3 separate regions of the Homo sapiens genome follow, and regions 1 and 3 are each linked to region 2. The links come from fine-mapping of genetic effects on plasma protein levels. Region 2 holds a variant in brackets. A gene starts in each other region. All regions are shown on their reverse strands. Distances are between the middles of the regions.

Region 1 (5,224 bases), 97 Mb before region 2:
TATACACGTTATTATGAACTGAGTTCATCTAATCATTTTAATAGGTTTTCAACAGAGGGAAGAAAATTGAACATGAGCTAATGGTAGGGACCAAAGTCTCAGAGAACAAGAACTCTGCAACTGCTAATAAGAGAATTTTTGTCTCTGTAGCTGGTGAAATATTTGAATGATATCCAATGATTAATGTTTCTTTAATTCTCTAGGTGACCAAAAATCACACAGAATTATCTAGCAATAAATCCTCTTTACATAACAGCCAAAGCACTTGGGGTTGAGGAAAGAGAAGAGAAATAGGTCTTACCCAGCAGGTCTGGTGTCTTCAATGGCTCTATCCACTGGGATCAAATCGCTAAGGTAGACATTGAAGTTTCCTTCTTTCCATCTTCTTTCTGCCTCCTTCTCCTTTCCATGGGGGACAACTACAGGACGCCCAAACTGCCCTGGAGCTTTGGGGTCCCTTGGAGAAAGTGTCACATCAATTCTTAACACCTGGTGCGTTCCACTGTCTTCAGGTAAAAGGGCTTTTATATGACTCTGGTTGTATTCTGTAGAGGGGGCTTTGGCAGTTATGTTGATTTTTGCTGGCTCTAGCCCTCCAGTTAAAGCATGGTTAGTTTGGGACAGTGGCACTCTATGTGGAGCAAGTGAAGAGGAAGACATCTCACTTCTATTCCTGGAAATGTGTTTACTTTGGCTTTTACCCAATACTTTAGGAAATATTGTTTTGGTTTTAGAATTAGAGACCTCTTTGGGGTCTGCCTTTTGCTCTTCCTCTTTGGTTATAATCACAAGATGGCTTTCAGAGAAATTGAGTTTCTTCCCATGAGCCCCTCTAGCTCCATCATCCTTTGACAAACTTCCCAAAGGTGTCTCATTAATAGATTGCTTCCTTAAGCGATTTGAATTGACAGTGAACTTAGGAAAAGGAAGACTCGTATTGGCTTTGTGTTTATTTGCATTGACTTCTTTGCTCTGAGTCTTAGTTTTGTTTAAGGCCATGGCTTCCCCAGACTTCGGCACTGCTGTGCTGGCAGGGTGTGCCCTCTCGTTTGCTACTGCCTGTGATCGCTGCTTTGGTCTATCAGTACTAAGACTGATGGTCACATTCAAGTCCCTTTCAGCTGCTAGTTTTGATGTGTCACTGCTGGGACTATGACTCTTCCGGGGCTCCTGTTTTAAACTGACACGTCCCATGTGTACTGATATTTTGACTACCTGAGTTCCTTTTGCTGCTATGAATGAGGTCTTTGGAGCCCCCTGAGCTGTCGTTTGCTTTGGTGTCCCCTGGTGAGAGGAGGCTTCAGGTTTGGTGCCTCTCCCGTCTGTCTTCTGCTTGTTAGGAGTCACAGGGAGGGTCTGCAGATGTGCAGGATGCCACAACGGCACAACCTTGCCCCTTCCCAGGGCATTCTGCATTTTTCTTTCCCTCTGGGTTTGGTCCAAGTCCACCTCAACCTTGAGCACACTCTCCTCAGTTTTTCTAACATTCTCTTTGCCCCATGCCCCTTTCCCATGTCCCCTTAGGGGAGGTTTCATCTCTTTTATGCTGCTGTAAAAAATTTTTCCTTGGTCTGGCTGAACTCTGAATCCTATCCGCTCCCTCCTCACAATGTCTTCCTTGATGACCCGAGTGTTGATCTCACTGAATGAGAGGCGGAGAGCTGCCATGTCAAAGAGGAGCCAGATGACAGAAGCTACAAAGATAAATGCCAAGACTCGCCCACTTCCTCGGAAAAACTTTCGGATCCTGTTCATGGTACAAAGCTTTCCCTAGCAGCCTGCCCTCCCTTAGCCTGCTTACCTTGAGTGGAGAGGAAGCTGAAGTAGCAGCAGCAGCAGCAGCAGCAGCAGAGTTGCCAGAAAGTGACCCCCTCCCCTGAACACAGCAGGAAGCAGCAGTCCAAGGGGAAAGCTCAGTTCCTACCGCTTGTCAGTCTCTGCCTGCGTGGCATTTCATAGCAGAGCATCTGTGCCTGCTTGGCTGGCCCTGGCTAAGTTCTGATAAACACTGGCCTTAGGTCACTCCAGGAGCAGTTGATTCCAGCCACCGAACAGTTCAACATATCACTTGTCTTGTCTCCGGGAGCCCATGTCCACCTTCCTACAAGCCCAAGAAAAGGTGGGGGCCAGATTGAGACTGCCGTTTCTCTCCTCCCCGTTCTCCGTCTGCACGCTGTAACTCAACACCACTTCTCATAAGGAAAACATTTCATGCCATTACCCAGAAAACTTCATTCAGCTCTCACCTTCTGTGTTATGTGAGAGCATGTGTGTTTAAACGGCAATTAAAGAGGAAAAAAAGCTATCTAACTTGGAGGGCATGTGTTCCTGGTTTGTGACCCCACCTACCCTACTCCTGCTCATTAACCCTGTTGTAGCCAGGTGCCAATGCTCTGCCTGAGGAATTTATCACTGAAGTTAACATTTCAGCTTTAAGACATAACAGCTTAAAGAAGGGGCCTGGTATATCCTCACTTCCAGAGATGTATATGTTTAATTATTTAGATCATTCATTCAAGGGGTTTCAATGTATTTCTTTGTAAGCCAACTATTTTTTTTTCACTAATCCATCTGTTTTTATTATTACATTTGATTACAAATAAACTTAATTTGTCATACTGCTATAAAAGTTTCTAAACACTTTGTTATGGTCTGAATGTTTATGTCCACCCAAAATTCATATGTTGAAACCTAATCATAAATGTGATAGTATTAGGAGGTAGGGCTTTTGAAGGTGATTTCATTATAAGGATAGAGCCCTCATGAATGGGATCAGCACCCTTAAAAAAGAGGCCCTATTGCCTTGCCATTCCACAAAGTGAAGACATAATGAGAAGGTGCCATCTATGAACCAGGAAATGGGCCTTCACCAGTCAACGAATCTGCTGGTGCCTTGATTTCTGACTTCTCAGTCTCTAGAACTGTGAGAAATAAGTTTCTGTTGTTTATGAGTCACTTAGTCTATGTTATTCTTCTATAGTAGCCTGAACAGATTAAGATACACTTACTCTCAGTTTCAGTACTTATCTCGTCTTAAACCAGCAAGCAACAGTTTCAGGACCACACCAGGACTTGGACCAGATTTTGAGTGATGCTGGTTGACTGGTAGGGTAGCAGTTCCGCCACAGGCTTTTCATTAGAACCACTTGAAACAAGATCCCCAAAACTCTGGTCAATTGATGAGAGAGGAGGTGGAGATGACATTTGGGCTGATATTGTATTAAATATATATATATATATATATATATATATATATATATATATATATTTTTTTTTTTTTTTTTTTTTTTACAAAGCTTCCCAGGTCTTTCAAATGTGCAGCTAAAGTTGAGAAACACTGGTCTAGAAAAAAAGTCTCAATTTTTTGTTTGTTTGTTTTTGGTTTTTGAACATTGCCTATGAGACATTTAATTTTAGGTGTCTACTTGACTGGGCTAAGGAACACCCAGAGAACCAGTAAAGCATTATTTTTAGGTATATCTGTGAGGGTGTTTCCAGAAGAGATTGGCATTTGACTCAGTGCACTGAGTGGGGAGGAGATGCCCTCACCCAATGTGGGCAGGCACCACTAATTGGTTGAGGGCCCAGATAGAAAAAAAGGCAGAGGAAAGGTGGATTCTGTCTCTGTTAGTGAGCTGGGACATCTTTCTTCTTCTGCCTTTGGACTAGAACTTTAGATTCTCTGGCTTTGGCCTCTGGGGCTTGTACCAGTCTGCCCCCACAACCTCCACATCCCTCACTAGGTTCTCAGGCTTTTGACCTCAGACTGAGAGTGATGTTATTGGCTTCCCTGGTTCTCAGGCCTTTGGACTCAGAATGTGCCATGTTACTGGCTTTCCTGGTTCTCCAGCTTGCAGGTGGCCTGGACTGAGGTTTCTCAGTCTCCATAACCACATGAGCCAATTCCTGTAATAAACTGCAACTCACTTATCTACCTCTATGAATCCTATTGGTTCTGTTTCTCTGAAAAATCCTGGCCAATACAGTCTACAACTTGTGTGACATTCCTTCCCTGTCTAAAGTACAGTCTAATAAAATCTATGCATTCCCATAACAACTAAATCAGAATACACATTTTGACATTGCCAGTTGTAAAGATTGTCCATAGAGTTTGAGAAGCACTTCTCGGGACCACTGTCCTTCTCTCTGAGGAACTCTGAGTGATTTGTGGACAACACTGCTGTTCATTACTCTAGTGTGGGGAGGGTCTAGCTTCCATGCTTTGAGGTAAACTTATGTTCCCAATGACTTGGGAGGGGAAGGAGAGATTCCAAATTCATATATATATCTCAAGCACTTTGCTAAGTTCTTTCCATTGACTATCTCACTCAATCCTCACAAGAATCTAATGTGAAGGAGTAAATTACAATATGTATTTTGTAGTCAGCAAATGAAACCTTAGAGAGGTAAAGCAACTTCTGGTAGAGATTGGAGGGGTTGGGTCTTGAATACACGACTGTAGTCCGTGTGCTTCAATATCACACAATACTGCTCTCTAGCTGTATGATCTTGCAGGCTAGTTAATTTTATGTGGTTACTGAGCAATAAAAAAAAATTCTGCTTTGCAGATTAATGTGAGAATATTTAAAAATGGTTAAAGTTATTGTTATATTGAAGGTACTCTTTAAATGTTAGCCATTCATATTGTTGCTAATACTTTGCTGTAATAGGAGTGTCGGATGCATGTGGGAGGCAATGTACCAGCTCTTCCCAAAAAAACAAGTAGAAAACTAGTGACTAACATGATTCTGGCAATGGGGAAGAAACAAATCTGAGTATTTTATTTTATTCTTGCCATTCTTATTTCCTCTAATTATAGATTTAACAAGACCATTGTTCACTGAGAACTCCCTACATGCCCAAAACATGAAGTAGGTGACATTGTCTCTGCCCCTAACAACCTTAAAACTCCCCTCAGTAGAACGCCACCAGTATAATAATAATAATAATAAAAAAAGAACGCCACCAGCAAAAAACATAGCACACATCTTTAGCATCCACATTCGAAAATAAAGTGAGAATTTTTTTTAGCATCATGGATAAATGGTTTGCATTACAATATTGTTTTAAACATGAAAATAGAATACTTTAAAATTATTTTACTCTGCATGATTCAATCTTGTCCAGCCACCATCCCACCCCAAATGGCAGTTGGAATTACTCAAATGTCTTTTAGGAAAGTCAACACTTGTTATATTCTATGCTTGGCAGTTTAAAACACTGC
Region 2 (5,224 bases):
GATTGACAGCAAAGGGGCATGAGGGGGCTTTCTAGACTGGTGGACGTGTTCTGTATCTTGATTTTGGTGGAGGCCACACAGCTGTATACAACTGGCAAATTGAATCCAACTGTACACTTAAAATGAATGACTTTTGTTGTATGTAAAGTATACCTTAATAAAGCTAAAGCGAAACAAAACAAAACACCCACCACTGGAGTGGAACCAAGTCTGTCTGTAACCTTTAACTGTTTGGGTCTCCTCAAGACTCTAGCCGTCTTTCAGGGTAGCACCAAAGTACATTTCAGGGAAATGAGAATGCCCTTTGTATTCTGAGATTTTATAGAAGTTGGTAATGACAGAGAGAGAGAGAGAGAGAGAGAGAGAGGGAGGCCCACTGAGATGGGGTTATCCACCATAAGCAGAGCATTTGGGTCTGAGAAGCGCATGAGTACTGGTGAGTATGTGAGGAAGGAGAGAGCAAGGGGAGGAAATCTGTTTTCCTAGAATTCCAGCAGGCTTCAAAAAGTAAAAAGGGGAGGGAGTACCCAACTAAGTTTTTTTCTTCCCTAGAAATACATTTATTCTAAACATTAGCCCAATTAGTTGTCTTTTGTTTGTTTGTTTGTTTGTTTTTGAGACAGGGTCTCGCTGTGTTGCCTAGGCTAGAGTGTAGTGGCATGTTCATAGCTCACTGCAGCCTTGATCTCCTAGGCTCAAGCCATCCTGTCACCTCAGCCTCCTGAGTAGCTGGGACGACAGGTGCATGCCACCATGCCTGGCTAATTTTGTAGAGATGGAGTTTCTCCCTGTTGCCCAGGCTGGTCTTGAACTCCTGGGCTCCAGTGATCCTCCTGCCTTGACCTCCCAAAGTGCTGGGATTACAGGCGAGAGCCACTGTGCCTGTCACCAACTCAGTCTTATTCATCAGTATGTCTTCTCCTTAAGCGGAGATGCTAACAATGTAGCATCTCCTGTGCTGAATTCCTGTAAAGTGAGGGTTTTTGTTTTTCCTACATCCATCTTCCTCTCCAGATTCCCTCTCAATTTCCAAGGTATTTAGCGTAAATGCAATATCTGAACTTCATTTATTTGGCAGATTTGTGTGGACTGCCTTTTCTGAACCTATTTGGGTGCTAAGGACTGTATGGATTTGGGTTCTTAACATGGAAAACGTCTGTGCCTGCGTAGTGTTGGGTCCTACCTGGCCACTTGGCTCTCAACACGGAGTGATGATGCCTAGGGTGTTTTGACGTGGGCAGTCAGCCCAGCCTGGAGAACTGAGGGGAGCATTTCTTTCTTTTTTTTTTTTTTCTTTTTTCTTTTTTTGGTGAGACGGAGATTTACTCTTGTTGCCCGGGCTGGAATGCAATGGCGCGATCTCGGCTCACTGCATCTTCTGCCTCCCAGGTTCAAGCGATCTCCTGCCTCAGCCTCCCGAGTAGCTGAGATTACAGGCATGTATTACCATGCCCGGCTAATTTTGTATTTTTAGTAGAGACGGGGTTTCACTGTGTTGTCCAAACTGATCTTGAACTCCTGACCTCAGGTGATCCTCCTGCCCCGGCCTCCCAAAGTGCTGGGATTACAGGTGTGAGCCACAGCGCCTGGCCGGGAGCATTTCAAATGATAGTTAGGACTTCCTTTTACTGTACTTAATAGCTGAAGGGGGCCAAAAGTGTCCATGTTTGCTGCCCTCTGGCATCAAAATGAGGTCCTTTTTAGTAGTGCTGCATTTAAAACAGCATTAAGAATACGTTTTTAGAACTTAGCTTTTTGCATTGAGGATGCGCAGGTGGCTGAGACTAACTTCTTTGCAGATGACCATGGTTGAAAGTCAGCTATAGAGTTGCACAACCACGTAGTTGGGCTTCACATATAGAAGATGTTGTCATTTTTTGGTAACTCTGTCAGACTTTACCAACCTGGCGCACAGTCTGGTTGGCACATAAACTTCACATTTGCTCTTCTCCAGGGTGTGGGGTGGCTGTTTAAAGAGGGTGGATATTCATGCTAATCTTTGTGTAGCATAACATGTTACTGCAACTTGCTTTTTTTTTTTTATCTGAAAGTTCAAGTAGATATCAGAAGGGAA[A/C]TGTTTGTGGGTGCTAAGAAGGTTAAAATTACCATTTTGAACAGAAATGATATTTGGAAAAATAACTTCCCTTTTAGGAAGGTAAATCAGTCATTTATATGCTATTTGTTGAATTCCTAGAATATATGAATATCATGTCACATGCTGTGCTGGTACTTTCAAATATAATAGAAGCAAGTAGGAGAAAGAGTCCCTGTATTGAAGAAACTCATTGGGAACACATGAAATTAATTAGAGGCATAGAGGGTTAACCAGCAATGTAAGGCCTAGATATGAGTCAGGGAGTGGTGCATGGGATGAGTGTTCTATGAGGTTGGAGAAGGATGAGATTGATTCTTCTTGCTAAGGTGACTAGGTAGACCTTCATTGAGGCCTTGAAGTATGAGCAGGATTCCAGGAGGTAAGAGAAGAAGAAGAAAAGCCAGGAAGGAAATGAGAACGGAAGGGATTTTTACTTGGGCAGAATATTTTCCTTGATGGGTACGGGGAACTAAGACTGGAATAGAAAATTGGAGTTGGATTGTGGAGCTCTGGAATGATGGCTTAAGGAGTTGGACCATATCCTATAGATCACAGAGGGCTGCTGAAATACTCTGATCAGAAGACAAAGGCAGCATGCTAGGGGATGTTAAGTGAGGACTCTGCAAAGGGGGTGGATGAGTTGTTGAAATTCTCTGTTATACCCTTCATGCCGAGTTCTCCCCTGTTGACTTATATGTTCTAGAGGATGGAGTTGGTTGACCGTAGGGTTTCCTTTCACTAGCAGAATGGAACCAGATATTGTAGGAGCCTAGCACATGGGTCTGTTACTAATATAGAGGACTGTTTAAATCTTGGAAAGCTTTCCTTTTGCCTTTGCCCCCATTGCAGATGGGGAGTGGGCAGGAATGACGTTCAGAATCAAGGGCCCATCAGGGTCTGTATTGGTCCCTTGTCCCTCTCCTCCAGTCCATCCATGTTGGGATACTCAGGGCATGGATGGTGTTTCATGATAGCATTTATCATTTTGATGATATGTGACAAAATAAGGCAGGCATCAAAATTCATATCCCTGTGATCTCTCTTTAATAGTGTCCTCCTGCTTTGGGGGTTATTAAGCTAGCCTGAACTTGAGTAAACATTTTTGGATGGGGTGAGAGGGGGGCTGATAAAAGTGGTTAGTAAATAGACAGTTGGAAAGGAGAACGGCCCGGGGGCTCAGGAGATGAGCCAGGGAACAAGGAAAGCAGAGATGCTAGTGACCCAGAGTGTCCTAGAGGGGAAAGAACCTCTGTTAGAATTTCAAATGTCAGACTTTCTTTTCAGCTTCCTTCAGGTGCTTCCTCTTCTACTCAGAATTTTCTTTTGAGATAGGTGCTGGTCAAACAAGCTTTTGTTTGTGGCTGGTCACTTGGCACACAGTGTGGCTGTTTGTCATCCTGGATGATGAGGCAGCTATTTTAATGGCACGCAGGGCCGCCGTGTGTTTACTGCCAAGAAATAAGGGCTTCTAGGAGACTTGGTGGCTTTAGGAACAAACTTCCAGCGGCAGAAATTAGTTAGGAAGCAGAGTAGCACTGGGTTCCAAATGCCTCTATTGTATGAATTTGGATATGTTGTGGGCAAAATGACATAAAAGAAATGGAATGAGAAATAGTGTAAGTGACTGACAAGGACCCCATTGGCATGTGGGCTAGTGTTGACTGGCTCTCACAGTGTGAATTTAGTTAGGTGTTTCCACTTTATTTTCCCCAAACTCTAAAGCAACAGTTTAATTGGGGTCTAAGGTACCCTTTAGAAACATTTTGACCACCTATTATTTAGGACACACAGCATTTTTTTTCTTTGAAGATAAATTTGTTTTGGGTATGGCTGGGTGTGGTAGCTTATGCCTATAATCCCAGCACTTTGGGAGGCTGAGGTGGGTGGATCACCTAAGGTCGGGAGTTTGAGACCAGCCTGACCAACATGGAGAAACCCCGTCTCTACCAAAAATACAGAAATTAGCCGCGTGTGGTGGCGCATGCCTATAATCCCAGCTACTTGGGAGGCTGAGGCAGGAGAATCGCTTGAACCCGGGAGGCGGAGATTGCGGTGAGCCGAGATTGCGCCATTGCACTCCAGCCCGGGCAACAAGAGCGAAACTCCACCTCAGAAACAAAAAACAAACAAACAAACAAACAAACAAACAAAATCGTTTTGGGTAGCAGTGGCTTTAGGCTGTTTTTGGATCTTTGGCTATTGATACTGATTTGAAATTTTTTGTTATTATTTTCATGTTAAGCAAAACTAGAAAGTTTTACCGAATTCCCCTGCAGTACAGTAAGTATTTTCTTTCATTGGGGGAAGCAAACTATTTACAGCCATAACAGGGTTTCCAGTGAATTGTATAAGTAGCACTGAGTTCTGTGTCAGCAAAAAATGAAACAAAAACTGATCATAGATGACATTACCTAAATGACAGTACCTACGTGTGTCCTTTCTTTCACATTTGCTGTAATCCTGTTATGGCATTGTCCTATTATCTCAAGTACTGTCATCTTTAAATGCTGTCAAATTGTAACTGGATTGCCAAGGACAGAGGAGAGGAACCAGGGAGGACACAATGGCAATTCCCACTGCACCAAAGAGACGGTCTTCTTCCCCCTCTCACAGTCTGAATTCTTGGAGACATTGTTCAGTTAAAATCATGACTCAGGTATCTTTTACAGGCTTTGATGAAATAGTCAGATTCACTCCTCATGTTCCTAGAAGGAAAGGAAGAAACACTCTTTGAACAGCCCGTGAGACAAACTCTTCCAGGATAATTTAAATGTTTCTACATAATGAGAATAAATTGTAAGTGTTACTGTGTTTTTAAAACCCAGGTCAAAAGTAATAGCACAGAGAGGGATCTATAAGCATTTAATATCTAATTGTTCATATATTGCTTCCCCAGGTTTAGATGAGGGCTCCATTCTAGAGTTGGGAAAACCAAGTCAGTAAACCTTTAGTGGCAGATGTTATCAGGGAGCTGGAGTTGGAGTACTTGCATTTTGTGTTTGTGCCAGCTGTCCATGTTCCTCTTCATATATTTAGACCAAATTCTTATCCAGATTTCCCATTAAAGGTTCATAAATTTCCAGTTTTCACCTTTCTGCAGCTTCCTTAGATAGAATGGTTGATGAGAAA
Region 3 (5,224 bases), not on the chromosome of region 2:
GTAAGTGCACGCCCCCTGCCTCCTCCCCTTCTAGGTACTTCACGAGCTATCTCATTTATTCTTCCCAACAAGCTAGTGAAGGTGCCACTGTTGTGGCCATTGATAGATGAGAAAACAGAGGGGTTAATCAGGTTCCCCAGCGTCCCAGATGGTAGACCATGTTAGTCTGACCACAGCCCTGCTGCCGCCCTCCCTGGGCTTGCTCCCCACCCAGGCTTCCAGGTAGGAGGAGGCTGAGGCTGCAGTGAGCCATGATTGCACCACCGCACTCCAGCCTGGGCGACAGAGACTCCATTTCAAAAAAAAATAAGCCTCCAGGCCCCTCACTGCCCTGGCTGTCCTGCAGTTCTGTAGCAACAAGGCTGAGCCCCAGTAGCTCCTGGCTCTGTGCGCCACTCCCTAGCATGGAGAGTGCTGGTAGTCCTTCTGTCAGGTTTAATTGATGCTGAAAGACCATGAAGCAGACAAAGGGCTCAAGCCCCAAGCTGGGCATGGAGAGGCAAGTGCCTCATGGCAAAGGGAGGGGGCTGGCTTCTGTCCCCGAGCCTTGACCCAGGGGCTGGGATCAGCCCTCCTCTTTCCCCGATTTGAACTGGCACTCACTCTGACAACTCTTTTCAGAGAGCCTGTGTAGCTTGGGTTCTCCCTGCCTCCAGGGGTGAGAGGAGGAATGGAAGCAGTAGTCACAGTTTAGACATGGAGGCATTAGGAAGAATGCCAAGGGAAATGGCTAGGTCCCCAGGCAGCAGCCACCCTGGAGGTAGGACGCAGGCTCCCTGCTCCCTGCTTCTAGGGCTTAGCTTTGCGACTCATGCAGATCCTCACGACAAAAACCTTTCTCTCTGTGCCTGTCTGTCCTTGATGGGGTCCAGCTTAGGAGAGGGCAGGGCAAGGAACAGTCTGCTAGTGGAGTCCTAGACCCAGGGAACGGACTCTGTTTCTGCGGTTCCAGTAAGGATGTGGAAAGCTTTCAGAGCAAGCCTCGTGGGGGAGAGGGGGGATGTTGGAGAGGCTACAGATGGGACCAACTCCTCCGGAGAACAGAGCCCCAGGATGCAGGCAGGGGGCTCTGATGCTGGGCCCTGTCCCTGGGCTTGGAGGTTGTATAAAGGGAGCAGAGGCAGGTCTAGGGGCTGGCAGGGAGAGGATACTGAGGGAGGCTGCTACTTACAAGTTGTTTCCCAAGGCTCTTCTCTTTGAAGCCCCCAGATGCTGCATCAGCTCTGGATCCGACTGTTCATCGCCCACCATAGTGGGGCCCACCTCCTGCAAGGTAAGCCACAGTGGCTGCTTGGCTGGCTGCCAGGAGGAGGTGGAAGGTCTTGCCTGTCCTTCCTCCCCTGCCTGCTAGCCCTGAGTAAGGTTCAGGTAAAGGCTACAGAGAGTAGCAAGGATTCTTAGGGGCTGAGCACAAGCTGTGAAGGGGTGGAGCCCATCAATGATCAGGAGGAGCAATGTAGGCGCCCTCCCTAGTGCCTTAAAGCTCAGCTTTAGCCAGGCAAAGTATCACGAGCCTATAGTTCCAGCTACTGAGGCTGAGGTGGGAGGATCGCTTGAGGTGGGAGGAGTTTGAGGCTGCAGTGAGCCATGATTGCACCACTGCACTCCAGCCTGGGTGACAGAGTGAGACTCCATTTCAAAAAAACAAAACAAAATAAACATGTAAATGAAAGAAGCCAGACTCAGATCACATTACCACAGAAAGGTAATTAGTGGTTATCTAGGGCTGAGGGACTTGGGGGAAATCAAGAGTGTCTGCCAGTGGGTACAGGGTTTCCTTTTGGGGTATTAGAAATGTTCTAAAACTGATTATGGTGATGGTTGCACAACTCTGAGTACACTAAAGAAACAACAACACTGAATTGTACACTTTAAATCAAAGAATTTATGGTATGCACATTACATATCAATAAAGCCATATCTTTTAAGAAATAAGAATCACTTTGGGGGGCCATTTCCAAGTATGGGTTCCCAAGCCCCAGACAGAGTTTTAGGAGGTCTGGGAAGGGACCCAGGAATCCACATTTTGGCAGCTGAGCAGATGGCTGCTTCACAAACCGCTGCCCAGGGCTCTGCAAGAGCTCTCTGTTGCGTGGTGAACCCACCAAGGGGGTTGTGTACCCTTTGCTGGTTCACCCCAGCACTGGGCAGTGAGCAAGGGCAGAGAGCACCTTGCTGCCCGTCATGTCTTTCTGAAGCTAAAAGGGGACTCCTGAGGGGCAATCAGAACCTTTTTACAGATAAGGAAACTGCGCCCAGAGAAAGGAACGTGACTTCTAACTCATGGTGTTCCCACCTCTAACTGCACAGCCCCTTCTCGCCTTCCTTTTTTCCAAGCAGGGTGTTCTTTCTTTTCTTCCTTCCCTAAAGCTTCAGGGATAGCCCTTCCTGGAAGTGCCTAAGGGTGCAGCTAGTTGCTGTTTATGGGTCAAGGACTTGGCACCGGGGTTTTAGCGCCTTGGCAGGTCCTTATCTTTTCCAAACCTCTTTCTCTCAGGTTATTCGCCCTTTTTTCCCCTGCGGAGCGGCTCTGTGCAGGGCACTAGGTGCTGCGCGTGAGGCCAGGGCTCCCTGGGTCTCTCCCGCCGACAGGTAGGACAGGAGCCGGAAGCGCCCGGAGGTCGCCCTGTTGCCGGGACGCACGTACCCGGGCCCCTTCGCGGCAATAAAGGCTTCAGGCCGGCCAGAGCTCGCTGAGTCCCGGAAGCCGAGCTGAGCCCGCTTCTCCACTCCCTCTCCCCGGCCAAGGGGGCGTGTCTGGGCGGGTTCCCGGTCCAGTCCCCGGTGGGTGCAGCCCAGGAGGGAGGCATGAAGGTGCAGTCGCAGCCCCCTAGGGCCTGGTCCCGGCTCCAAGTCGCCAGGCGGCCGGTACTCACCATGCGGATCTGGGTGCTGATGAGCAGGTAGGGCATGGTGCACGCGTCCCGGCCTGGCTCCCACCGGGGGCTCTAGGCTGGACGCCGACTCCAGCCCTTCTCGCGTCGGGACTGCGACGCGCAGCTGGGAGTCCCGTTACTCCGGCTCTGGCCACAGGCGGCGTCAATCCCGGGGCACCTTGCCCGTGACCGCCGTGGCCGCCAATCAGGAGCGGCTGCCGTGACGCGCCCTGCAGTCGGCGGTTCGGGGCCCGCCCCCGCCCTCCCGGCGGCGGACTTGGACCCCGGGGCCCACCTGAGGCTTCCGCCGAGTGATCCAGTTGCGGGAAGGTGGAGTGCGGGGAGGAGGGGGCGGTCCCACGACCTGGAAGGACACTATCCTGAAGCTCCAGCGTCCTCCAGGACGCTTAGTGCTGTTTTCTTTGCAGCCTGTGATCTTACTGCGTCCCCGCGCGCGTGTTGCCCCCGCGCCCGCTTCTTGAACACTTCAGGCCAGGTTCCAAAGTCCCCTGCCAGGCAGAGCCCAGAGCAAACGGCGTCCTCACGGAGGCCTCTCCAGGCCCCAGCCCACCCCTCTCAGAGACGCCTCGACAGCTTCAACGGGGCCCCACTTCCCCTCGCCAAGACATGCGCTCCAGAGATTCCTTAAGCGCTGAGGAGGCCGGGGCACGAGGCTCGGAGCTAGCCCTGAAGGCGACAACTAAAATACCACCCAGGGCGCACTGTGCATTCCCCCTCCCAGACTCTAATTCCAGCACAGAGGCGGATCCTTGCATTTCTGTGGACCCGCAGGAAAGTCTGTAAAGGAACCGCGCGCTTGGCTGGGTGCCAGGTCTGGAGTGACTGAATGGATGGAACCTGGCCTTCCCTCCCCTGAGCTTCCCGCGCAGCTGGACAGACGCGGCGCACGCGCAGGAGGTCACTGGGCAACACCTGGGGCAAATGAAACAACTTCCCCCGCACCAGCCACCAATGAGCGGCTGCGAGTTCCCAACCGTGTGTCCACGCCCCTCATCCGCAGTTATCAAAATCTGACAACTCATCCTTCTTTATCTGCCTTGTTGTGATTGGTTTTCTTTTTTCTTTTCTTTTTTTTTTTTTTTTTTGGACATGGAGTTTCGCTCTTATTGTCCAGGCCGGAGCGCAATGGCGCGATCTCCGCTCACCGCAATCTCCGCCTCCCAGGTTCAAGCGATTATCCTGCCTCAGCCTCCTGAGTAGCTGGGATTACAGGCCTGCGCCACGACGCCCGGCTAATTTTGTATTTTTAGTAGAGACGGCGTTTCTCCATTTTGGTCAGGCTGGTGGCGAACTCCCGACCTCAGGTGATCCACCCGCCTTGGCCTCCCAAAGAGCTGGGATTACAGGCGTGAGCCACCGCATCCGGCCTGTGATTGGTTTTCTAGAAAATAAAGCAAAACAAAAACAGCCTGTAGGTAGCCTTCCCTCCCATGGGAGGGTAATAATCTTCACTTTTTAAGAGGGGCCTTTATAGGGGATGCTGCCGTTCCAACACTTTGACAGACGTGGAGAGAGCTATAAGGGAAGCAGGAAGTTGTAATCCTAAACGTTCCTTAACTGGTCTAATTTATTATTCTGTAGTTCCTACCCCTGCCCTCTTACCCACTGACCTAACAAGTTAGCCAGAGAGATAAAACACATTCATGCTTAACAAAGGATGTGTTAAAACTGACGAAAGGGCCGGGCGCGGTGGCTCACGCTGCTAATCCCAGAACTTTGGGAGGCCGAGGCGGGCGGATCACGAGGTCAGGAAATCGAGACCATCCTGGCTTAACACAGTGAAACCCCGTCTCTACTAAAAGTACAAAAAATTAGCCGGGCGTGGTGGGGGCCGCCTGTAGTTCCAGCTACTCGGGAGGCTGAGGCAGGAGAATGGCGTGAACCTGGGAGGCGGAGCTTGCAGTGAGCCGAGATTGGTTGGGCCACTGCACTCCAGCCTGGGGCAGAGCAATACTTCGTCTCAAAAAAAAAAAAAAAAAAAAAAACTAACAAAAGATTGATGCCCAGGAGCTCCTACAACTCAGTGAGAAAAAGATGAACAATGGAAAAAACAGGGGTAACTGACTTGAATAGGCCCTTCACAAAAGAGGAAATAGAAATGACCAATAAACATATAACATGATGCCTAGTATATCATTAGAAATACAGGAAATACAAATTAAAGTCAATTTTACTTTTTTTCATTTTAACCAAATTTATTTAAACCCCAAGACTTTGTAGACACAGTGGCTCACGCCTGTAATCTAAGCACTTTGGGAGGCCAAGGTGGGAGGATCGCTTGAGCCCAGAAGGTTGAGGCTGCAGTGAGCCATGATTTGGTTTATTTT

Which allele goes with the higher level. Alleles are on the strand shown, and positions count from the first base shown. The strength of an association depends on the size of the effect and on how common the allele is.
In carriers of allele A in region 2, the plasma level of the protein whose gene starts at base 2,133 in region 1 tends to be higher than with C alone (weak association).
For the plasma level of the protein whose gene starts at base 3,025 in region 3, allele A in region 2 goes with a higher level than allele C (moderate association).

What was found. PIP is the posterior inclusion probability: the model's chance that the variant is causal. The UK Biobank Pharma Proteomics Project read protein levels with antibody pairs (Olink). The fine-mapping took linkage between variants from a reference panel, not from the people measured, so its PIPs are less certain.
Region 1: it holds the start of GALNT5, and the variant in region 2 is fine-mapped to the plasma level of the GALNT5 protein (UK Biobank, PIP 0.95).
Region 3: GCHFR starts here. The variant in region 2 is fine-mapped to the plasma level of the GCHFR protein (UK Biobank, PIP above 0.99).

The regions. Positions count from the first base shown.
Region 1 is chr2:157,254,614-157,259,837 of GRCh38, reverse strand. GALNT5 (polypeptide N-acetylgalactosaminyltransferase 5) reads right to left here and starts at 2,133. Exons shown (of 10, transcript NM_014568.3): 1 at 302-2,133. The coding sequence starts at 1,755.
Region 2 is chr2:60,487,759-60,492,982 of GRCh38, reverse strand. The region is part of intron 2 of BCL11A (BCL11 transcription factor A); the gene reads left to right. Among named protein-coding and RNA genes, the nearest start is that of BCL11A, 63 kb to the left of the region's middle. The variant A/C (reference allele first, on the strand shown) is at 2,075.
Region 3 is chr15:40,761,869-40,767,092 of GRCh38, reverse strand. It overlaps GCHFR (GTP cyclohydrolase I feedback regulator), which reads right to left and starts at 3,025. Exons shown (of 3, transcript NM_005258.3): 1 at 2,877-3,025; 2 at 1,172-1,266. The coding sequence starts at 2,912. It overlaps DNAJC17 (DnaJ heat shock protein family (Hsp40) member C17), which reads left to right. Exons shown (of 11, transcript NM_018163.3): 11 at 1-1,932. RefSeq lists enhancers at 913-1,702, 2,480-3,345 and a silencer at 3,012-3,461.